Linked DNA regions of Homo sapiens: all the other regions are linked to region 1. A link means that fine-mapping ties the variant in region 1 to the expression of a gene that starts in the linked region. Tissue or cell type: whole blood. Region 1 holds a variant in brackets; each other region holds the start of a gene. All regions are shown on one strand. Distances are between the middles of the regions.

Evidence for each region. PIP is the estimated chance that this variant, and not a neighbour inherited with it, causes the effect.
Region 2: it holds the start of SKAP2, and the variant in region 1 is fine-mapped to the expression of SKAP2 in whole blood (INTERVAL, PIP above 0.99).
Region 3: it holds the start of HOXA-AS2, and the variant in region 1 is fine-mapped to the expression of HOXA-AS2 in whole blood (TOPMed, PIP above 0.99).

The regions. Positions count from the first base shown.
Region 1 is chr7:26,915,917-26,924,024 of GRCh38, forward strand. It overlaps the pseudogene RPL7AP38. Among named protein-coding and RNA genes, the nearest start is that of SKAP2, 55 kb to the left of the region's middle. The variant C/A (reference allele first, on the strand shown) is at 3,991.
Region 2 is chr7:26,859,713-26,867,820 of GRCh38, forward strand. SKAP2 (src kinase associated phosphoprotein 2) reads right to left here and starts at 4,878. Exons shown (of 13, transcript NM_003930.5): 1 at 4,651-4,878. The coding sequence starts at 4,717. RefSeq lists an enhancer at 5,116-5,445.
Region 3 is chr7:27,117,654-27,125,761 of GRCh38, forward strand. It overlaps HOXA-AS2 (HOXA cluster antisense RNA 2), which reads left to right and starts at 4,266. Exons shown (of 4, transcript NR_122069.1): 1 at 4,266-4,373; 2 at 4,814-5,013; 3 at 5,807-5,985. HOXA3 (homeobox A3) reads right to left here. Exons shown (of 6, transcript NM_153631.3): 4 at 4,906-4,989. RefSeq lists enhancers at 4,043-5,242, 4,821-5,618, 6,418-7,215.

The DNA of each region.
Region 1 (8,108 bases):
TGCTCACTGTGGAGAAGCCTATGGTTAAAGCACTGATCTTATTTTGTCCGTTAAAGCCCCTCCAATCAAGTATATGACCTGGGGATGGGAACACTGATTCCATACCAACTGAGGAGTAGAAGAATTCAAAGCTAAAGAACGAAGAATATTATTGCAGATTAAGAATATCATTAGACAGAAATTGACTGTCTGATTATGTTGATTCATCACATGCTATGCTGGTGATCAGCAGCCCAAATGATATACATATACCTTTTTTTTTTCCAAAGAAATTGTCATGTAATCTTTTTATAAGCAGTATGGACTGATACCTTACCAAGCCAGAAGAACAAAATTTCTTTTTCAGATGCTTATGACAAAAGGACTTGGAATTATCTGTCTAAATAATGTCAAAATAGCCATTATTTCCTTCCACAAATGAAGGAACAGGATTGGGGATTAACTTTGTGGAATTCAATTAATTTTGCACTTGGCATAGTATATGGAAACAGTTTACAACATTTGGGCTTGGAGACTCTGGGTTGAATATTTAAACCATTGCTTGAGACATAATCAGTGGATAGAAAATTCTAAGAACAGCAGCCCTACTCCAGAACTTCTAGTGGGTGACATCTGGGGTGAATTAAGTTTCTGTTCTGTCCCAGCTTTAGCTACAGATGTGGAGGTGTAAATGTGCTTTCCAGGAACTGTAGATTATATGAACATGATGTAGACTACTTTTATTAGGAGTTCAAGTACCACATTTCCAGAAATATAAAGAATGACAGCAAGGAAAAAGGCCTTTAGAGCTTAAATTACAACCACATCTAATGAACTCAGAGGTGTTTTTCACTTACTAGGGTATTGCTTTTCAACTCCTGTAGCTTAAATGAATCTAGTGATCATAACAGTAAATATGGTTTCCAAAGGTATCCCAAGAGGTATCATTAGTCACATATTACATCCTTTTCTAATTTGTACACTTTCCATGTTTCAGGGTTTCACAGGACTGCTGAAACCTCCAGAATTTCATGTTTCCCTCAGCAGTCTACAATAACCCTTAATCTGAATGACATGTATTATTTCCTCAGCAAACATGTGATGTGGGAAGCTTAGTAAAAGATTTATTATAAGAAAAGGCTCGATGTTTTATTTCCTCCCCTAATTGAATTCATTATTGCTCTCTGTTTAGAAATGCTATGTTGATGTATTACACCTCAGAACAACTATGAACGTGCCATCTGCAGCAGGAAGGTTTATTAGACTACAAATCAGGATACAGATGTTGGAGGGAAAGCTACGTATGCTAAGTCATAATACATTAAAGCACATTTTAAATCTATATATCATGGTGGTCCAGCAGATTTTTATTTTTTTAAATTAGGTATTGGTACTTATGAAAATTCAGGAACTAGAAGCCCTCTCTTCATATGCATGATAGATAAAGTGATAAGCTGCTGAGGTGATAAGTATAACCCTGTAGATGGGGAAAAGGACTAAGTAACTTCAAAAGAAAAAGCTCACATTCTTATTCCGTAATACTAGTGAAAAGATCCACATTTAAAGTCGGCATTCTAAACCAAATGAGCAGATAAGTCTTTTGGGAGTGTAAATGATCACAGTTTTATTGATCTTTTTCACAAATTTAGATTTTCATCCATTTACTAGAAGAGCATTTATTGAGTACCTGTTACTTGCTAGGTGACTCTAGGATGTGCTCTAGGATTTTATTAAAACGAGACTCAGTTATATTATTTTGATGTAAGAGGAGTTGTTTAATTTTTCTTTCTTTCTCCAACTGTTCAAGTTCAGGCCCAATAATGGACAAATTGCCCGCAGAAAGTTTACAAGAATATATCAACTACTTCATTGGTTGAAAGAATTAGAGGAACCTTGGTCAGCACAGCTGAGAGGATTGCTTTCCTGAGAGATGACATGATTCTCTTCCATTAGGCTCACAAAAATATAACTCAATTGTATCAATCTTAAACAAATAAAATCTAGGATGCTCACATTTTCTAGAAGGATTAATGTTCTGTAGATCTATTGATCTTCTACATTCTTCTTAAAGTATCCAGGGTAATCATTAACAATACTTTGTTTTGATTTACTTGCCTGGTGTCTGAGGCTCTTCCAGCTCTCTACAATACATTTGCGCTTTATTCATGATGCTTATTCTGTAGATAAAGACAGCACATTACTGGCATTTGTAACTGGGAGGCTTAAAATTTTTAAACATAAAATTAGAGATAATCTAATGTTTAGATTAGGGTTAGATTTTTAAATAGGGTATAGAACTTCAAAAGAAGGTGGTTTTCTCTTTCCCTGGAAATATTCAGAAAACAGTCTACCTTTGGTCTTCCAGGAAGCACAGACAAGGGCAATGATTCAAGAAACCACTGTAAAAATGCAGATCTCACCCAGTAAAGGAGAGTATCTTACTTCCTATTAAGCATAGTTAGATGGGTGATTATTATTAATCATATATAGCATTTGCATAACAATGAAGTTTGGATGGCACTATCACACACTGTCTCATTTACCATATTAAGGAAGCATGTATTCATTCCTCAAATATTTTATAAATGCCTACTAGGTGCCAGACTGCATACTTTGTACTTGGAATGCAAAGGTGAGTAAGACAAATTCTCAGTGAGCTTACTTTCTAGTTGAGGAATACAATGTTATTAAATATAATGTGTTATAATACAGACATGATGAAGTACTGAGGCAACATGAGGTTACTAGTATTTTAGCCTCACTTTACAGAAAAAAAAACTGACCAAAAATATTGATATTAATATTATAGGGCAGTTTTAACAATTAAATGAGAGATTGTATTAAGTTACTTAGTACAATGACAGCCCATAGTAGGGAGTCCATAAATGTTATTTCAAAGAGGTAGCATAGAATAACAGGTTGGAGAATGGATTCTGTATCAAACCTTTTGGCTTGGATCCTGGCTACGTCTTAGTTTGTGTGGCCTCGGGAAAGTTATATGATATATCTAGATCTCAGTTTCCCCAGGGCTAAGATGGGAATAACAATCATAACCACTTCTCAGGGTTGTTGTTTTGAGAATCAAGTTGTCACACGTGTTCAAAAGAAGTTATTCATGGCAAAGATCAAAGCTGGGAGCAGGTCCAGAAACTATATCCCACCAAACTTATAGTTATCCTCTCATAAAATAGAGATACTGTGGCCCTGAAGAGTGAGATGTCCTTATTTTTACCATAGGGAGGAGAACTCCCTAGCAAATAGTTCAAGCTAGGAGAAGGCAGCAAAGAATATTTGGCATCTTGAAGGTTAGAGGGAAAACTGGCCTGAAGAGAGATGGCCAAAAAGAGAGGGAAAGCATGGTATGACAGCAATAGGGGTTAGGGGAATGTGACTTGGGCAGAGGTCGGACTGAACAAAGCAGAGGGAAATGGCTTCAAGAAGAGAGGAGGAATATGCCATCCACACATCTCCTAGCACTAAATACGGGATAATCTTTCCAATATGTCCAATCTGTATTTTGCTAAGTGGGGGGTATTTATTTTTATTGGATAATTCCTAAAATGTTATAAACAGAGCTTAACTAAGTAAGAGTATCCAAAATAGCCCAATAATTATCTTTCAAGGTGTCTGGTACCAACATGCTCTTTTCTCTCATTTGGATTCCCACAAAGAAACTGTTGGACATGAAAAAAAGAGGCAGATATTGGTTCACAATATGTCTCATGATACTGAGAGAATTTTCCTGATTGCAATTTTTCATTTCATTTTTTGAATGAATGATTTAAATGTTCTTTCTGTACATAATGGGACAGGAATTGTATAATTATTACCACAATCCAATTTTAGAACATTTTCAGAGAATGAAGGAGTTTTAACCTGTGATTTAAATGCTACCAGTTTATGGATCTCTGTTCTTGTACCAGAGACAATCTGAAGATTCTCTCCAGAAGTAAACATCCTAACCAGCAATCACCAACATTAAAACATGAGCCTGTTTTACTCTTTGAGTGG[C/A]TAGCTTCCTGTGAAAGAATATACATTGCCTCTCTTCTTTTGTTACCTTTCTGATAATACTGGCTATGCTGTAGGCCAATGTATTACATTAGAGAGCATTTCGAGGAAAAAGTCCCTTAAAGCTCCTTATATATATTACAATTTTCTGCTATACATCATTATTACTAAAATGATTCACAGCTAGTGTAGCATGTTTAGGCAAGCTCAGATACTTGGCAGTAGAACACAATTCTTTTAATAGCCTAGCTCCAATGGGTAACCCTTTGAAAAAGGCATTTATTGTTAGTTCTGTTAGCTATTGAACCAGTCTTTGCATACTTCGATGCATAAGCATACAAATGGAAATTTTTATTTTAAGTTCTGTGCTATACTTTGCATATGAAACAGAAGTTCTTTAACTATACTGTGGGAAATTCAAATGTATTTCCTCCTCTAGAAAGAAAATTAATCTGAGAACAAGAGTCTACTTTGAGATTGTATAGAAAAGGCAAATATACCCTCTGATATGCTGCTTAGTCCTGATCCCCACCCCACCTCATTCCAGTACCCTCATTAACAAGAAGCTGTCAAAATACTTGAACATCATGAAATAAGAATGGTATTTCAACAAAAGATCAAATGCTTAGAAATCCACACCCCAAACCAGGTTATTCTTTCATTCCTAAATCAATAAGCCGGCAAAAACAAGACCATATTTGAGGTGGCAAAACCTCCTATGCCCTTACATTCTGTGAAAACATAAAAGGAAAAAAGAATTCTTCCACATTCTTCACGCGATTTTCCATGAAAGCACTCATTAAATGATGTTTACATATAATGATGACAGAGTGTAGATGGGTGTACTGCTTGGCATTGGAAGGGCAGTGCCCTGGAGTCTTCCTCCAGTTCAATCTTGAAAAAAATAACAGTCCTTTTAGTTTTTTTTATTATTATACTTTAAGTTTTAGGGTACTTGTGCACAATGTGCAGGTTTGTTACATATATATACACATGTGCCATGTTGGTGTGCTGCACCCATTAACTGTCCTTTTAGTTTTTAGTGTACAAACTTGGCTCAAACCATACTATAAAGTACTTTTGTATGAAGACTGCCATAAAAAAAATCACTGCAGAATGCTCCACTGTCAGTTAGAGTCCGCACAAGCTAATGCAAGCAAGTTATGCACATTAAAATAAACAGTAGAGAATTGGGTGTGAAAACAGTATCAATCAGGCGTGTCCATCTGACCATTATAACTTTAAAATATCTGTAGAGCAAAGCCAGTTTTCGTCAAGGTCACTTACTGCTCAGAAAAAGCTTTTCAGCTTCAATAAAAACATCGAAGAAACAAAATAAGGTTTTAAAAAAATGATGTTCAAATAGGTGTGTTTCATTTTATGTCACCTGTAAGAAGCAGGGTTTCCATCTAACATGAGATTCCCATTCCTATTCCTCTGTAAAGGTACAGTTCTGATAAGTTCAAGGACATGTTTGAAAAATGAATAATCACCTATATTATTATTTCTTTGAGAGCTAATGTGGCTTTTATTGAAGGAAGTCGCCTGAAAGGCTTTTATTGGACAAGCTGTATGCTTGTCCCCCAGAGAGCTGCCCCACAAAAATTCCTCAGAATATGAAAACTCTCCTATTAGCATTAAATTTCAGGCATTATATCTTCAGAAAGGCCTTGTTAAATTTACATTTGCTGTCTATTGCAGTCTGTAAGGTTTAACGCCAAGCGCTGGATATTTAGATTAGCCCTCTCAATCTCCATTTTACTATCCTTCTCTTTGGAGGGATTAGATAGCTAAACACAGTTTTTCAGAGCACAGACTCTGAAAGTCAAGAATTGGCCTTGCCACTTAATAGTATGACTGGTCAGCTTATACTTACATGGTAGCCTTTCCAGAATACTCTGAGAAACACTATAAAGTGATAGGGATGAAGAAACTGAGCTTATTGAAAATGGAAGAACCAAATAGTAGACTGGTAGCTCCTAACCAGGGAAACAAAGCAGTCCACAGTTCCTGAGAGATTGTGGCCCCAGGCTAAGAAGGTTAACTTACAGTTTCTCAAGTATAAAATAAGGATGAAACTAATAGTATCCAAGTGCTCGGCACAGTGCCCAGCACACAGTAAGAGCCCAAAAGATGTTAGCTATTTTTTTCCTTAGGTCCTTAAGAGGCTCTGGCAGCTGAGAAAGAATGAAAAAGGGCAGGAGCGAAAAGAAAGAAGGCCAAGGGGAATAAGGTGGCTCCAGCCCCTGCTGTCGTGATGAAGCAGGAGGTTAAGAAAGTGGTGAATCCCCTGCTTGAGAAAAGGCCTAAGAATTTTGGCATTGGACAGGACATCCAGCCCAAAAGAGACCTCACTTGCTTCAAGAAATGGTCCCACTATATCAGGTTGCAGTGGCAGAGAGTCATCCTCTGTAAGTGGCTGAAAGTGCATCCTGAAATTAACCAGTTCACCCAGGCCCTGCACCACCAAACAGCTACTCAGTTGCTTCAGCTGGCCCACAACTACAGACCAAACAAGAGAAAGACAAAGCAAGAGAAGAAGCAGAGGCTGTTGGTCCGGGCTGAGAAGAAAGCTTGCAGCAAAGGGGACATCTCCACTAGGAGACCACTTGTCCTTCAAGCAGGAGTTAACACCGTCACCACCTTGGTGGAGAACAAGAAGGCTCAGCTGGTGGTGACTGTACATGATGTGGATCCCATCAAGCTTGTCTTCCTACCTGCCTTGTGTCATAAAATGGGGGTCTCTTCCCCTGCATTATCAAGAGGAAGGCAAGACTGGGACATATAGTCCACAGGAAGACCTGGATCACTGTCACCTTCACACAGGTGAACTTGGAAGACAAAGAAGCTTTGGCTAAGCTAGTGGAAGCTATCAGGACCAACTACAACAACAGATACGATGAGATCTGCCGTCACTGGGGAGGCAATGTCCTGGGTCCCAAATCTGTGGCTCGCATTGCCAAGCTTGAAAAGGCAAAGGCTAAAGAACTTGCCACCAAACTGGGTTAAATGCACACTGTTGAGATTTCTGTACATAAAAATAATTAAAATAATACAAATTTTAAGAAAAAGAAAAAGGGCAGGAGACCACCCATTGCAGTGGGCTATGCACTGGCTGAAGAATCCTTTTTTTTTTTTTTTTTTTTGAGACGGAGTCTTGCTCTGTCACCCAGGCTGGAGTGCAGTGGCATGATCCCAGCTCACTGCAAACTCTACCCCCCGGGTTCAAGTGATTCTTCTGCCTCAGCTGGGATTACAGTGATTCTTCTGCCTCAGCTGGGATTACAGGCACCTGCCACCATGCCCGGCTAATTTTTATATTTTTAGTAGTGACGGAGTTTCACCATGTTGGTCAGGCTGGTCTCGAACTCCTGGCCTCAAGTGATCTGCCCACTTCAGCCTCCCAAAAGAATCCTTCATCTTTAGTTTGCAGTGAGAAAGAAAGAACCACATAAGACTCTGCAATGGAGATACTGGAGTACAAGATTAGCCAGGGACAACTTTCTAGTTTAATGTGCAGAGTTCTGTGAATCTTTTTGTACTAAGTTTTCAGGAGTCTCCCCACCCTGAATTGGGTGTGCAGCCACTTTTTGATCCACTGGCACATAAGGCAGACACTGTGCCTAGTCTAAACAAGAAATGTTTCTCTCTTCTTCCCTGGTAACAAAACTCCAATTTGTATTCAGGTTTTTGAAAGAGATCCCTTGATTTCAGGAAGGGTAGACCCCTACCTCAACAACAAGGAATGAGCTGAAATTGGTCTAAATCAGTCATAGTAATTTTCTTTTCTTTCCTCAGGGATTGGCCAATAAGTGGGCACATGACTGAATCCTGGCCAAGGAGACAAAGGGAAAGTCCACTAGGGAAGGCTCTCTTGCTAATAAAAAGACAAGACTCCACAAGTAGAATGTCTCTACCAGTCTTCCTTCTTGTCCTGAACATGGACATGGTGACTGGAGCCATGGTAGCTATATTCTGGCCAGGAAAATGATGAAGAAGCTGGCCCTGAAATCATTGGATTACTGAACTGACTCAGGCAACTGCCTACCTCCAGACTTCTTGTTATGTTAGAAATACAAAGCTCATTTGTTTAGGCCTGTACAGATGACTTTTCTATTTCT
Region 2 (8,108 bases), 56 kb before region 1:
AATCAAAATCTTTTTACTACATATTTTCAAAGAAGCCACAGTGAATAACACATTAGTCTGAGATTTACACTATATTCAGTTTTAGGCAGCATCTATTGTAATGTGTTCAGAATGTGATTGAAAAAGAAATGTAAATTCAGTGGAATGAAAAAGAGACTTAGCTTTAATTGAAAAAGACAAACTAAGTGAATCATGAGTATATAAAATCTAGCCTATGCCACTTTTATCACCCATATATGACACTTAATCTGAAATTTATGAGACAACTAAACTGTGTTTCAAATCACCAGCAGCTTTTCCTACTCTGTTGTGTCTACCTTCTTTCTAGTAATACTTTAATGCTGGTAACAGGAGCAATAAGCCCATTTGCAAATTTTTCATATAATGCTAATTTTTTAATATGTTTAGATTCTTCTTTTTGAAGAAAACCAATGATAATTTGGATTGGGTAGCTATAAAAACTGTACGTAGTATCAAGAGCCTTATATAGTAATGAGATGAAAATACTTTCAATGGACAGCCATGCCAAAAGATCTCCTCCCAAGAAAAAGCAGGACATTATATACTTAAAATAGGCAAATAATTTTCCTAACACCACATCTTAATTCATCTATATTATTTAGCCCATACAAAAAACTCTGTAAACCTCTAGTCCCTTAATTTACATATATTCCTATTTCTAGAAAAGAATATCTTGGAGGTACGATAGATTTCATTTTGAGATTAAATGTTCTCATATCAACTTTATGCTCTTTAGTGATTGCTGCCCAAATGGGGCAGGCTTGTTCTTGCTCCATAGGAAAACCCAGGTGCTAAGGAGGTAGGTGACTATTGGTGACTCAGTAGGTGGCACTCTTCCCTTTACATACTCAGCCAATGTCCCAGAAGGAAGTTATGGGACACTAGATACACCATAAATAATTCTCATAGGAAAAATAAAACCAAAATGTTGACCAAATTATAAATGGAACTTTGGAAAGGTGGAAATTAAACCGTAATATACTCAGCATTGAAAAAATTCTGCCTCTATTTCAAATAAATTGCACTCTTCACCTAGTGCCCCTACAGGAATCCCTTTAGGGGACTGATTACATACCCTAAATAATATTGTGTGAAAAAAATATTCACACATTATAATCAATGTGTGGGAAAAAATTTTCTAATGTTCTAAAAATTCCCAGTAGGGAAAATGTGGTATTTCTAATCAAGAGTGCCATGTGAACAAAACCTCAAGATCACTTATTTATTGTTTGTTTGGTTTGGTTTGATTTTTCAGAGCACTAACAATCACTATTTTCTTCTTTTAACAATGGTTTCATTTGCTAATTTAGTAAACAGAAAATAACATCTTCTTAGAGCTTTCCTTTTAAAATTTGTTGTCCTAAAACAAATGAATGAGGATGAATGAGAAGGTCTGATTGCAAGCCACTAACAAACCATTATTTAAAGGGTGATTAAACAAATGAAGGAGGCTGGAGGGAAGTGGTTCTAGTTCCTCTTACTTTCTTGCCTGTCTAGAGAAAAAAAAAAATCACATAAATCAAGATTATTCTTGCTGCTAGTCCTAGTCAAAATATTTGGATGTGAGAGAAGATTAAATGGACAAGATTTGGGATTGTCCTTTGATTTCAATTATCCAGGCTAAACCTGTTTTTCCATTGTTGTAGAAAAGAAAAAAATCAAAGGTTGCCTGTAATGCATATGGCAGCTCAAAATTTGCTTTCAACAACGAAATTCTGTAAGTCCTTTTCTGTTCATATAACCAAAAGAATAATCAACATTTTATAAAAAGCATAGGTCTTCAAGACTGACTCCACAGAAAATATAACTAAAAATCAAACTAGATAGCCACTTTTTCAATGGTATCTTTACACAACACATGTGAGTTAACAATAACAACCTCTTTTTTTTTTTTTTTTTTTTTTTACATTTCTATGGAATGGTTTTTATAGGGGAAGGAAAAAGGGAGAGGGAACAAATGTTGAAAGTATAGCATAGAACTGCCATAATCAGACAGAAAAATAAAGAGAAAGAAAAATAATAAATAAGAATACACTTGAGTACCTATCCCTTTTAAGCAGGTGAAATTTCAAACAGTACATATGACATATAATGATTTAGTTTAATAGGCATATGGAACACAAACAGATACATCTAAGCAACATTATTTTAACAGTCATTATCTTTTGATTATATATTCTTCTTTCTAAAAACAAAGGACTTTAAACCCCTGAAAAGTTTAGTTCCTTATCTTCTCTACCTTGGAATTCTAGCATAGTACCATGCATTCTAAGAGCACTCAACTGTTAACTACAACACCATTACCAATATCTCCTCAGTTTCAAAGAAATAGACTAAATAAGCCAGCAATATCTCTAATATTCAAACCAATATAAATACTTCTATAATGTTACTCTAAATCTAGTCATATACTATTACCCAATACACTTGAATTATGAAAAGAATCATGTACAATGCTAACAATATTTTTAGATGAAATACATGAAACAATTGCTGACAGCATCTATTCTTGAAGCGTTCTCTACCTCAAAAAAGATTTTAATTACAGTCAAACATAAAATGTTAGCAACTTTCCAAATAAGTTTTTTTAAAACCTGAAAAACACTGATTTGTTAAATTTCTTTAAACATAAATACGCCCCAACTCACTTCCATACTTCTTGAAAATATCCTCTGAAAATAAAGTGTAATCCAAATTTCCAATTCCAAAAGTTTTAATTGTAATATTTTTTAATACTTCATGTGTGTTTTAATATGTGATTTGCTTTAATAATATAAAATAGTGAAAATGTCAATAAAATGACTTAAAATAATTTCAGATGCTATGCTAGTATATTACCTGACTAAAGAGAGAAGGCAGAAATATATTGGAAGTTAGCATTGGCAGATAATTTAAATATGTAATTTTGAGTTTTTAGTTAAATTACACAAATAAGGGCCACAGGAAATACTTGTGATCTATGGGGATAAGAGAATAAAGGTTCTCATGACCTACATATCATATTATCTGTGATTTATGATTATGGATCCAAATAACAAACTGTACTATGGGAGGTACCAAGCTTTAAAACATGCACCCAGAGGTCTATATGTTATTTCTTAAATTCAAAAATACAGACATAGAATATCCTGAAAATGGTTTCATCTATTTTTGGAATAATGATAAACATTTTTCTGCGCTGGTTATTACAATAATATTCTGAACAAACAATTCCAGCATTGTAAAAACAAAAAATGTTAAGTGTAGTAAAACAAAATCAGTAGTCATGTGATGCAATAAAGCTGCCTGAAGTCAGTCTTTAGACTTCTTTAACTATTTCCCTTAGTGGTACCCGTTAATGACAACAAGCATTTCTTAGAGTGAAAGACTATCCCACCACAAATGCATTCAACATACTGTACCATAATCATACAAACATAAGTCTACATTCATACACTTAATATTACACTACCATATTAATAATGCCAAGCACCAAAATTGAATGACAGAATATTAGGAGATTTGGACTCACATTGCTATAGGAGTAACATATAAAATGTGTCATCAAATGTCACATTTTAGATGACATTGCTTTTTAAGAGCTAGAATAAGCAATCTGTAATCTAGTTATTCATAAGCAATACTGAGAGATAAATATTTTATAGACATCTAAAACTAAAAATCAAAATTCAGTTTCCAGAATTCTGACGTACACAAGACAAAATAAATGATGGTTGAAATTCCAGAACATTGAGATAGGTAAGATTTGTGCTACCTTAAAAACATATATTTTCTACCTTGTACAGAAATATAAATTATTGGTTCTTAGTGAACATACACACCTCCGTATCCAGTAAATTAATGAACTAGTAGTGGATTCATAATGCTACTGAAGAACCACGTTTTTAGCTCCTAAAATAAGTTCCTATAAATGGTAATGTAAAACTGAAAAAGGGAAGATAAGGGTACAAAGATGAAGTACTTTCATCGTGTCACACAGGAAGTAGAACTTTAACATATCCTTCCTTTTTTGCTTTAATATATTACTGAGGCTGGGGACAAGTGGCCATTTGAGAACCAGACCTTCTTCAAAAGTCTTAAACGTGAGTGAGCTGAATGTTTAAGAAAAACGGGAGTTTTAGAAATGACAAACTCTTTCACCCCATAACCCCTAACACCTGTGGCTCTGACAGCTCTTTGCATCTCTACATCCTCTACCTCCATTGGCCAGACCACCCAAGAACTACTTATTTGACTTCTGCTCCCTTCTGCTTGCTCACGCAGCATTCATTATCATTATCATTCTCTCTCCCTCTTCCACTCTTCCTCCCCCGCCCTTCTGTCACACACACACACACACACACACACACACCGTCTTCACAATGCACATAGAAACGTCCTGATCCCATTTGTGTAGATCACCAAAAAGGGCTTCGCCACCATCCCCGCACCAAATTTCAACACACACGTCCACTCCCTTTCTGAGACAAAACAACCCCTCTCCTCTCCTCCCTGTGCCGACCCCACTGGCTAGAAGACGTGGGAAGCGCGGGGAGGGAGGATAAGGGCTCTGAATGCTTCTGTCCCCACCGGCTCACCGTTCCCTCGCCCCCGCCCCGACAGCATTATCGCCGCCTTCCCGCTCTTTACCTGCCAACAGGTTCCTAATTTCCTCAGGGAGGGGGTAGGGAGAGGAGGTGCTGCTGGGGTTGGGCATGTTAGGGAGCGCAGGGCGTGCGGGGAAAGGACCTGCGCTGAAAAGGTGACCGACGGGGTGGGGCTGCGGCTGCGACCTAGACTCAGGCTAGCGGCCCGGATTAAGAACAGCGGGGCTACGAGTCGGGACACTGCCGGGCCGGGGCTCACAACAAGGAAGTCACTGAATCTCCAGCGAGCTGCAGCTGGACTGTCGGCCCAGCCCCGCCCAGAGGGCCGGGGCGGGGAGATGGGTGGGAAGGGACACGAAGGGCCTGAGGGGTCCAACTGCGCATGTGTATTCCTCGGTTTTCCCGGCCCCAGAAGAAAGAGCCTGTGGGCAAGCCACGCCCACCGCTACGCCGGGAAGCAGGAGGAGGAGCCACTGGTGGGAAGGGGGCGGACTGAGGCTGCGTCACCTGATGCTGCGTCACCTGATCCAGCGTCCGGAGCGCCTTACAGCCATTTTCGGTACTGGTGCCATCACAACTGCTGATCGTTTCTGCAGGATTCCAGAAAATAATGTATCCATGATACAGAGTGTATACAAGTTTTGCGATTACGCCTTCTGCGTAACAGTCAGTCCCACCGCAGTTTAACCCACAAGGAATTTTCTCTTGTCCTAAACTATTATGGCCTTCTTTGTCCGATTGAACGGAGGTAACGAAGTCTCGTCTTCCGCCAGTCGTCCGGGCGAAGCCAGTCTGGAGCCGCTCCGGAGCGCGCGTTGTGATTGGCTCTTACATTACTTTTCTACCTAATTCGTATCCTTGGGGTGACAGATTTTCCCCACTACAAGGAAGACTGGGAAGTTCTAAGCACCGTCCTTTGGCAGGAAAAAACAAACAAAACAAAACAAAAAAACAGAAGGCCGAATAGACATTGGCACCACTGTCCATCTACAAGCATCAAAAATAAAATTGCTGGTGGTGGTTAGTAGAATAAAATTATAAAATCTGCTCACTCCAACTTGACCATTTAGTCAACAAATACTTACTGTCTTCTATCTGTAAAGCTTCTTAAAAGTTTTCTCTTTTAAAAAAAATGGCTTCTTTAAAACCTTTAACAGGCATACATCTTTGTGCTTCCCAGATATTGCATTTTTTAACAAATTGAAGGTTTGTGGCAACCCTGCATCAAGCAAATCTGTGGGCGCCATTTTTCCAAAAGCATGTGCTCAGTTCATGTCTCTGTCACATTTTGGTGATTCTAACAATATTTCAAACTTTTTCATTATTATTGTATATGTTATGGTGATCTTTGAAGTTACTATTATAATTACTTTGGGACATCACAAACAGCACCCATATAAGACAGCGACTGTAATCCATAAATGTGTGTGTTCTGACTGCTCTACCAACCCTATACCTTCCTCCATATCTCTCCCTCTCTTGGGCCTCCCCATTCCTTGAGACACAACAATATTGACATTAAGCCAATTAATAACCCTACGATGGCCTCTGAGTGTTCCAGTAAAAGAATCATTTTACTTTAAATCAAAAGCTTACTTTAAATCAAAAGCTAGAAATGATTAAGCTTAGTGAGGAAGGCATATTGAAAGCCGAGACAGACCAAAAGCTAGGGCTCTTGCACCAAACAGCCAGGTAGTGAATGCAAGGGAAAAGTCCTTGAAGGAAAGTAAAAATGCTACTCCAGTGAACACACGAATGATAAGAAAGCGAAGGAGGCTTATTGCTGGTAAAGAAACGTTTTCATGTTCTGGATAGAAGATCAAACCAGACATAACATTCCCTTAAGCCAACGCCTAATCGAGTGCAAGGCCCTAACTCTCTTCAAGTCTACGAAGGCTGAGAGGTAAAGAAGCTGCAGAAGAAAAGTTGGAAGTTAGCAGAGGTTGGTTCATGATGTTTAAGGAAATAAGCCATCTTCAGAGCATAAAATTGTAAGGTGAAGCAGCAAATGCTGGTGAAGCAGCTGCAGCAAGTTATCAAAAAGATCTAGCTAAGGCCAGGTGCAGTGGCTCATGCCTGTAATCCTAGCACTTTGGGAGGATGAGGCGGGCGGATCATGAGGTCAGGAGATCGGGACCATCCTGGCTAACACAGTGAAACCCCGTCTCTACTAAAAAAAAGATACAAAAAAAAAAGAAAATTAGCCGGGTGTGGTGGCAGGCGCCTGTAGTCCCAGCTACTCGGGAGGCTGAGGCAGGAGAATGGCGTGAACCCAGGAGGCAGAGTTTGCAGTGAGCCAAGATTGCGCCACTATACTCCAGCCTGGGCGACAGAGCGAGACTCCATCTCAAAAAAAAAAAAAAAAAAAAAAAAATCTAGCTAAGATATCTGATGAAGGTGGCTATACTAAACAAAGAGTTTCAGTGTAGATGAAACAACACTTATTGGAAAACAATGCCATCTAGGACTTTCGTAGCTATAGAGTAGAAGTCAATGCCTGGCTTCAAAGCTTCAAAGGACAGGCTGATTCTCTTCTTAGGAACTATTTCAGCTGCTGACTTTAAGTTGAAGCCAATGCTCATTTACCATTCTGAAAATCCTAGGGCCCTTAAGGATTATGATAAATCTACTCTGCCTGTGCTCTATAAGTGGAACAACAAAGCCTGGATGACAGCACATCTGTTTACAGAATGATTTACTGAGTATTTTAAGCACACTGTTGAGATCTACTGCTCAGAAAAAAAGATGCCTTTCAAAATATTGCTGCTTATTGACAATGCACCTGGTCACCCAAGAGCTCTGATGGAGATATACAAGAAGATTAATGTTTTCATGCCTGCTAGTACCACATCCATTCTGCTGCCCATGGATCAAAGAGTAGTTTCAACTTTCAAGTCTTATTTAAAAAATACATTTCATGGCTGGCCATGGTGGGTTACACCTGTAATCCCAGCACTTTGGGAGGCTGAGGCAGGAGGATCACTTGAGGCCAAGAGTTCAAGACCAGCCTGGGCAACATAGTGGCACCCCATCTCTACAAAAAAAAAAAAAAAAAAAAAAAAAAAAAGAATAATTAGCCAGGTGTGGTGGTGTGTGCCTGTAGTCCTAGCTACTCATGAAGGTGAGATGTAAGGATCCCTTGGGCCCAGGAGTTCAAGATTACAGGGAGGTATGACTGTGCCAGTGAACTCCAGCTTGGGCCACAAATGAGACCCTATCTTAAAAAAAAAAAAAAATATATATATATATATATACACACATATATATACATATATATACATATATATATACACACATATATATATACATATATATACATATATATACCTATATATACATATATATATACATATATATATATATTATATGGCTATAGTTGCCATAGATAGTCATTTATCTAATATATCTGGGCAAAGTAAATTGAAAACCTTCTGAAAAAGGTTCACCATTCTAGATGCAATTAAGAATATTCATGATTCATGGGAAGAGGTCAAAATGTCC
Region 3 (8,108 bases), 200 kb after region 1:
TTTCCCTCTTCCAGCTGCTCCGGCTGCTCAGGTCAGCCCCTAATCCTCCATCCCCTGCCTGAAAACACCGCCATCCTGGGAGAGATTCCCCTTCTCACCCACCCATCCCCCACCCCTCCCAGGCAATCTAGCCCTGCAAGCCGGTCCACCTCTGCCTGCACCTGGCTTCTGGACCCTCTTTCCGCCTGGGGATCAGCTCCTGAGACTCCAGCCCTGCCCTGCTGCAGTGGACAAAGCCACCCTTGCACTGGGGGCCACTGGGCCCACCTAGGAGCCCCCCTAGTGCCCCCTCCTTTACACCCCCAACACTTTCCAGGGAATTAAATTCAGAGTCTGAGGCGCTACTGGGAATCTTTCAAATGGTTTCGGTTCTAAAAGAGAAACAAAGGAAGAGAGAGGCTGAGGGTCCTGTCCATGAGCCAGGGTCTCCTCGCCTGACCTTTGTCTCTCACAGCCATAACTCACTCTAGATATGAACAATCGGCGGAAATACCTTAAAATAAATTCCATCCTCCTGGTATAGCCTCGACTTCCATCGGCTAGCTCGCCCAGAACCGCTCCATGAGTGCTGAAAACTGCAATCGGCTCAGAGAGCGCTCTCCGGAGAAGGGGAAGGAGAAGGAGGAGGTGGGTGCGTGGGGGTTGGGGGAAAGCTCTGGCTCTGTAGAGAATCTAGAAAACGTAATCACAGGCGAAGCCTGTCTGGGTCTCCGCTCCAAATGCCACAATAATGCGCTGTATTATGTGCTCACGTGGTCATACGTCAACTTAAATCCTTTTATTTGAAATAGGGAACCACTGAAGGAACTAGGTTTCCAAACAGAATATTTAGCTTTGGGGGAGGGTAGGTGGGGAACCTTGACCAGCAGTTTTGAGTTTAAGAGTTCTGTCTAAGCAATAGGATGCTTGGAGCCATCCTCCCATGAATGCCATATAAGACATACAAGCTTATCTCCACTTATATTTCTTTACACACCCTCCAAACACAAGGGTTACAGCAATGCTATTCACATTTTTAGAATCCATTTAACTTTCCTTACAGCCTCCCACCCACGGACAAGCTGGATCCTGCACACCCATGCACCCCAGTCTCCTCTGGCCCACAGGCCAGTATATCAAAAGGCAAGGGGCAGGCCCAGAAATAACTGGCCTGGACAGCGGACTTCCTCACAGCCTGCCATTGTATGGAGTTTGCTAACACCCACACCATACACTACAGACGCAAGAAACACCAAAAAGGCACATAATTACCTGACAAAAGGTTAAAGCATCTCCTCCAAGTCCAGTTGGTTTTGTTCAGTGGGAGCCCACTAGGAAAGATGTGCTTGGCTATAGAGTGGTGGGTCCGGGTTTTGCAAAATCTAGAGAAACCTAGTGCCCTGACTAAACTTGCACTTAAGCATTTCCTCAGTGCACAACTGAGTGATACATGGAATTATAAGTTTCTAAACATAAAAAATATCAGAGGAAATGATCTAATTGCTCTGCAAGAGACCCCCCCCCCCAAAAAAAATAAGAAAAAAAAGAAAAAGAATCAACCTTCACTGGAGTGCCTTAAGTTAACAAGGCAATCTGGGACCCTCTCCACAGGCAGGTCTGTCCACCCACTTTTCCAAGACAATTCTGTGTCCACCAGCAAATTCTCTCCCCACCCCCACACAAGTTCCTATAGAGATATCAACTCAAAGATGAGAAAGAGCCCCCTTCAGAACTCTCAAAATAATCTTGAGCAGAAAACCAGTAGAGAACCAACTGTGCTCAGGAAGAACCTAACTGAAACAAATAAGCTGCTCCCACCCTTGGTTCCACCCCTACTCCTGCCTTCTGCCTGATGACATTGCCCACTAATTTCAACATTGTACCGTTTCATGAGCTGTCTAAAAATCTTCTCTTTTCTGGTCTTAGTTTCTGAACTTCTGAGAGTGCTCTGAGGCTAGTGAGATCCTCAGGCCATATTCTTTTTTTCCTGGAGAATGGGTCTTCAGCTGGCTATGCCTGAGTGTGAGGACTCACTTATAGCAGCTGCAGGAGGCTGTGCATGATTCCTCCCCTTCACTCCTCCCCTGCAGAGGAACAGAAGGGGTCTGATGAAAATGTAAGGCCTTTCATAAGAGAACTTGTTCATGGGTTGTCCAAATCAGAAAGGCAATAAAAGAAGAGACCTAATCCCCTGGAAGCAAGTCCTGGCCTAAGCTGGTGACAATATTTCAGTAAGGTTCAATCTGTGGTGTAGCTGGAAGAGAACCTCCATGTGAACTTTTCCAGCTCCTATCTAAGTTACAAGCTGGAAAGTAAGAACTCCAAGTGAAAACCTGCCTCTCTCAGGTTTGGGGGATAGAGGACAGGAGTAGAAGCTGGTTTCCAAAAAGCGTTCTCCTGACCCCCAAGAACTCACTCCTCTCATTCTTACTGCTGCCTGCCTCATACCCCTCACCAATCATTCACACTGAGCTCTCCAGATACCCTAGAAAGGGACCTGGAGGTATTGCTGGCAAATTCCTCCCTACCCCCAAGTTTCTGAAGAGGCATCAACTCAAAGATGAGAAGGGGCCCCCTTCAAAGCTCTTGGAACAGTCGAGCAAATGAAAACTCTTAAAGCCATAAATTGTCCGGGTGCGGTGGCTCATGCCTGTAATCCCAGCACTTTGGGAGGCCGAGGTGGGTGGATCATGAGGTCAGCAGTTCGAGACCAGCCTGAACAACATGGTGCAACCCCGTCTGTACTAAAAATACAAAAATTAGCCAGGCATGGTGGTGCATGCCTGTAATCCCAGCTAGTCGGGAGGCTGAGGTGGGAAAATCACTTGAAACCAGAAGGCAGAGGTTGCAGTGAGCTGAGATCGTACCACTGCACTCCAGCCTGGGACAGAGCGCGACTCTGTCAAAAAAAAAAAAAAAAAAAAGCCATAAATCAATGAAATAAGTCATTGGTACTGCTTCAGAGAAATGCCTTAACGCCAGCAAAGCTCAGAGGCATCTCAGCTCCAGCCTGGGGCCTCCAAACGGCTGCTAACATCCAGTTAATGCTCCAACTGCTGTTTAACAATTAACATTAATGACTTGGGGTGGGATGGGTGATTTGGTGGGATGAGAAGGGAAAAATCTGAAAAGTCAAAAGACATTTAACTTTTGAGGTTAAAAAACAGCTTCTCTATGAGAGATCTTGGCCTGGGCAGCCTATCTGGGGAACCAGCAGCTGACAGTCCTCCTTTGCCACTCTGCAATCCAGTTTCCTGGAGCAAAGCTACGGGCCTTTTAAAAACCCAGCTGCCAGTCCCTCTTCACTCACTTCACCGGCCTCCAACTTGGCCTGCGCTGGGACTGATACTGTGGTCCTGGTCACCAGAGCCAAAATAGGGGGAAAGCTGGCTTGGAAAAAGCAGGCAACCAAGGGTACACACCGTTAGCCAATATTTGCAAGGCTGTTGGCAGATTAGATATATCTGTACTCAAACACTGCAATCTGATTTCTCTGTCAAAAGTACACTTAACATTTTTGTCCCATTACTTAAATCTAGTGGATTTTCTACTCAGCATCAGGTAAGGCTCTCTTAGCCCACTGTGTGCGTGTGTGTGTGTGTGTGTGTGTGTGTGTGTGTGTGTGTGTGTATGATAGATTCTTATTTAACATGAGATATTTCCTGTGGGTGCAAGTGCAGTAGAGAAATGGGCCAAGTTCTCTGGACACGTGTGGATGTGTATATTGTGTTATACACAAGGCCCCAAATTCCTGCAACTATTTATACATGCAATTGTTCTGTTGTTTGCTGAGATGGAAATCATATACACAGAGTTACAAATTCCTGAAATGTTCCATCTATATTTGATATAAACAGACATACAGTAGCTGAGAAAGTAACACAGCTTGACTATTGCTCTGTTTACCTTCTATTGGAAAAAATAATTGTATCCAGAACACCATATCAGCCTTATAGCACGACTGAATATCATGTTGCAATTAATTAACAACCTGATATCTATTTGGGAGCAAATTTAAGGGAAGACTGGAGGCCTAGGAAATAGAATACAAAATCTCAAAACTTTTTAAAAAGAAGTAATTCCTGAAAGAACAAAGCAAACTCATTCCTTCATACCATGCTTCTGAAAGCTATTCCAGCAGCCCCTCCCCCAAACAGGCATGTAATTTATGGATCTTTTACAAGGTAATAAACCACAGTAATTACCTCCCTGCATCCCAAACTAAGAGGACAAATTAAGTCAGAACTTGAAAATAATTTAAAAGAGTTTTCCCTTGTTTCAAATAGGAAAAGGAAACGCCAAGACATAGAAAACCACGCTTTTCCCGTAGGAAGAACCGATGATGAGCCCTGATGAAAGAAGGAAGAAGACCCGCTGTCTGCGAAGGCCTAAAGGTTAGAAATACAGCAATTTTTCTCATGCCGAAGGAAAGGCAAAATGGTCTAAGAAACTGCAAGAGTGTGATACAAGTTTTCCTCAACAGCGAGCTGGGACTGGCGACAATTTCTTAACTCACAGCCTCCGCAGTCGCCTTAGTCGACAAAGAGAGCAGCCCACGCAGCGGCCGCCGCGCCCGTGCCCGTGGCCTTTACTTGCTTTTGCCCTGAAGTTCAGTGTAGTGGTTTGTTTGGGGCTTGCAGGAAGAAACAAACACACTCCCTCTGACTCTCCACAACCCATCTTTGCCTTCTGCAACCGCTTCTCCTGCCCATCGCTGGTTTTGGGGTAGGCTCTTTGTCTGCCTGAGGCCCCGCACTCGCAGGGCAAGAAGCTTAAAGGAATCCAACTCCAAACTCCTCCGAAGTTAAATATTGACCAGAACCTCTTTCAACAGGCCGCGGTTGCCAGGAACCGTGGAGGGCCAACTCCTCCCAACCGCCCTGGTGCAAAGTCCCACGCGGCGAAGAGTTTTGGAGCAGCGCTTACCTAGAAAGATGTTTAAATTCTGAACCAGGAATTGTCTCCAACTCCAGGCGCTCAGGGAATCGCCTTTTCCGGTGTCCAGGCGCTCTGCAGACAAATAAACAGCAGAAGGTGAATGGCGGCTGCGAGGGAAGGGAGTTGGAGGCCGGGAGTGGGAAGCGAGGCTCATGCGGGCGCCAAGGTGGCCCTGGGGGTGACGCGAACATCAGGGAGTCACCAGGGCACTCGTCCGTGTGGCGCACTCATTGCTCGAAATGTTCCAGTCTACAAATGGTCCGAAGATGGTGATTTATTTTTGTAAAATAAATACATACTCCATCTCCACACCCATACTTTCTCCTTTTTCTTTCTTTTTTTTGGCGGGGGAGTGGGGAAGGAAAGGACATGAAGCAAACAGAGGAAGCTGAGAAGGTGGAAGTGGCTTTGCTGGTGGTGTGGGCTGCTTTCAGAGAGCTCTCTCCTCAGGCACCACAACTTGGAGAATGTGAATGCTTGCTTTATTTTCCTTTCCTAACAAAAGGAAGCCTTGTCTGGGAGCATTCAATCACGGACTCTCCTGAAACCTCACTAATATGTGTTCATTTCTGTAGGCGCGAAATCAGACCCGGGTTCATTCCACTGGCCAGAGGCAGTCTTGGGAGGATTTGTGTTCTGGTTTATTCAACTCTGGGTGCGTTCCTTTTAGGTCCTAGTGGGCTGGCGGGGCTACCGCAGCACCTAGTCCCTCAGAGCAGGCCAGCTAAGGCTGCTGGAAACTGAGAGGGACGCCGGCTGGTACAATACCTGCTCAGGGGCCCTGCTCCTGCCTGGCCTTGCGCAACGGCCACAAGCCGATCTGATGCCTTGATTCTGCTCAAATCTCGTCCCTCACAGTATTTGCAACCCTCTCTTGCCCTCTAACCAGCAAATGGTCACCGAGCCGGCAGTCAGCTTTCTGGGAGTGGGAGATGATGGGGAAAGAGGAAAGAATCGTCCGCTCGCCGGACCCTGGCTTGGAGAAGTTCTGCGCTCCGCTGGGACTCTGCGGGCCCTTTGCGTCTACAGACCTATCCCTGCCCCGACTACCCCTTCACTCAGACCCAGGTAACCTCTTACCCCAGCCTGCCCCAAACCAGCCCTCCGCTGTCTGTCTGCCTTCACGCAATTCTGTAGATAGCGCTAAGAGGGGATATCAAATAGCTGAGGAGTCCCCTGACCCCTGGCTTCGGAGCCCCCTAGCACGTGGAACAAGTGGCCGCACACCGGTAGCTGCGCTCTGCCACAGTTCGACCCGTAGCCCCCACAAACCAAAGGAAAAGGACCCAGGATCCACGCTGCGCGCTGCGCCCCCTTTCTCTTGTTCAAACTTGCTTTCTGTGTCCCCAAAGGGAGTGCCCCCTGGTCTTGGGGCTCCTGGCATGACCATGAGCAAGGTGGACTCAGCCATCCTGCACTTTGCCTCTCAATTTCATTCCAGAAAGATCCGCTATGCCGCCACCCACCACTCCCCTGCGTGACACTTAGGAGTATGTAATTATTATGGTTATTATTTTTGCTGTTTCCTTATCTCCAAGTCTAATATTCATGGCTGCTGTACCCCATAAATCGTTCAGACTAATGAGTCACAGAGAGATGCTGCCCAGGTCTCTCACTTTACAATGGCTGCCGCCGCCGCCGTGGCCTCTCTCTCCGCGTTTTTGGCGCTCGCTTGCTCCCTCGCTCGCCCGGCGCGGGTGATTTATGAACGCCGGGAAAATTGAACAAAGCCGCGCGCCCGTCCTGTGGTATCTCTGCAGCCTTCCCCAGCGTGAATCAGAACATTACCAACTGTCTGCGCATCCGTCCCACTTCATCACCAAAGCCAGGATGTGACCGCAGAAAACCCAAGCCCGAACTCACGTTTCCCCGGACGCGGCGCGCTCCCTGGACTCGCAGAAACCCTGCGGAAAAGGCCCCAAGATCTGGTGAGGGCCTGCCAGCTCCGTCCTCCCTGCCGAGGGCTCTCTCCTGCCTTCCTGAAGGAGTTAAAAGCCTTTGGAGATAAATCTGAGGGTGTGTGTTTTTAAAAATCAAATGGTAAGTTGGAATCTCACTTCTGAGAGATTCATTCCTAGTGAGGCCCTGACGACTCCGATCCATTCCTGACGATCTGCATTAATTATTTAATGAGTCACGTGACCTCAAAGATTACAATTTCAATATCTCCCTTGCACAGGCGCTACACCTTTATCAGCTGCAACCAGGGTCCTTTTTTTGGCTCTGCCGGCCTCCGGGGCACATTCATCCTTGCCCTGGTCTGAGGCAAGCCACCACCATGGAAATAGCAGGGCAAGCATGACAGAATTAGTCATCCTGGGATTATGACCGTTGTGGATAGTGGGGAGTCCACTGCTCTCCGAGATGCCCTGACATCTGTCCCCTCCTGAGCCCAGTGGCCAGTCCACCTGTCTGAGCTCTATGACTAGGGTGGCTTGGTTACAAAATCTCCCCAAGCAGCTTTGATGGCCCATGAGGCAAGAACCCATCCTTCTTCTCTGGCTGTACACACCTGTGACCGTCCAGGTCAAGTGTAAGCTTAGATGCATACCTCCATTCCTGGCAGAATATCTTCCTAAGAGGAAAGATGTCTGTGCTCTTATTGCTCTCTAGAGTGAGACTAAAGGTTGCATTCCACCCTCGTACTCATTAACTTAAGGAACGGTGGAGGGAGGATCATTCGGCTGCCTCAGTTTTCTCATCTGTAAATTAAGAAGATTGAACCAAAATGGCCTCCAGGTCTCCTTCACTTTGGACAGTCTTTCAATCTGGGAATCTCTTTCAGCCCCAGGAAACAATCCCAGAGAAAGTAGGGCTGGCTTGAAAGGGAAGGGGTTGCCCCGTGATTTTGGAGTCTTCAGAAGAGGTGCCAGAGTTCTGTAAGTTGCAGCCTAGAGGGTTTCAAGACAGCCACAGCAGCCTCCCTCATACCATCAAGGGAACAGAACACACGTCTCTTCCTCCTATTGTTTCCAGCCCATGTGTTTCTTTGGAACACGAAGCAGAATTATTCTTGGGACAGTGTATAATATAGGGAAGGGGCAACACAGCAGCAGTTGAGAAAGGTGAGCCTGTGTTCTGCTATACAAGACTGTGTTTAGGGATGCAGAGACCAGGGGAGTGCCAAGGGCAGCCTACTGCCTGCACAGAACCCACTCATTCAGAGGGGAAGCCCCAGGCTTTTTTGCTAC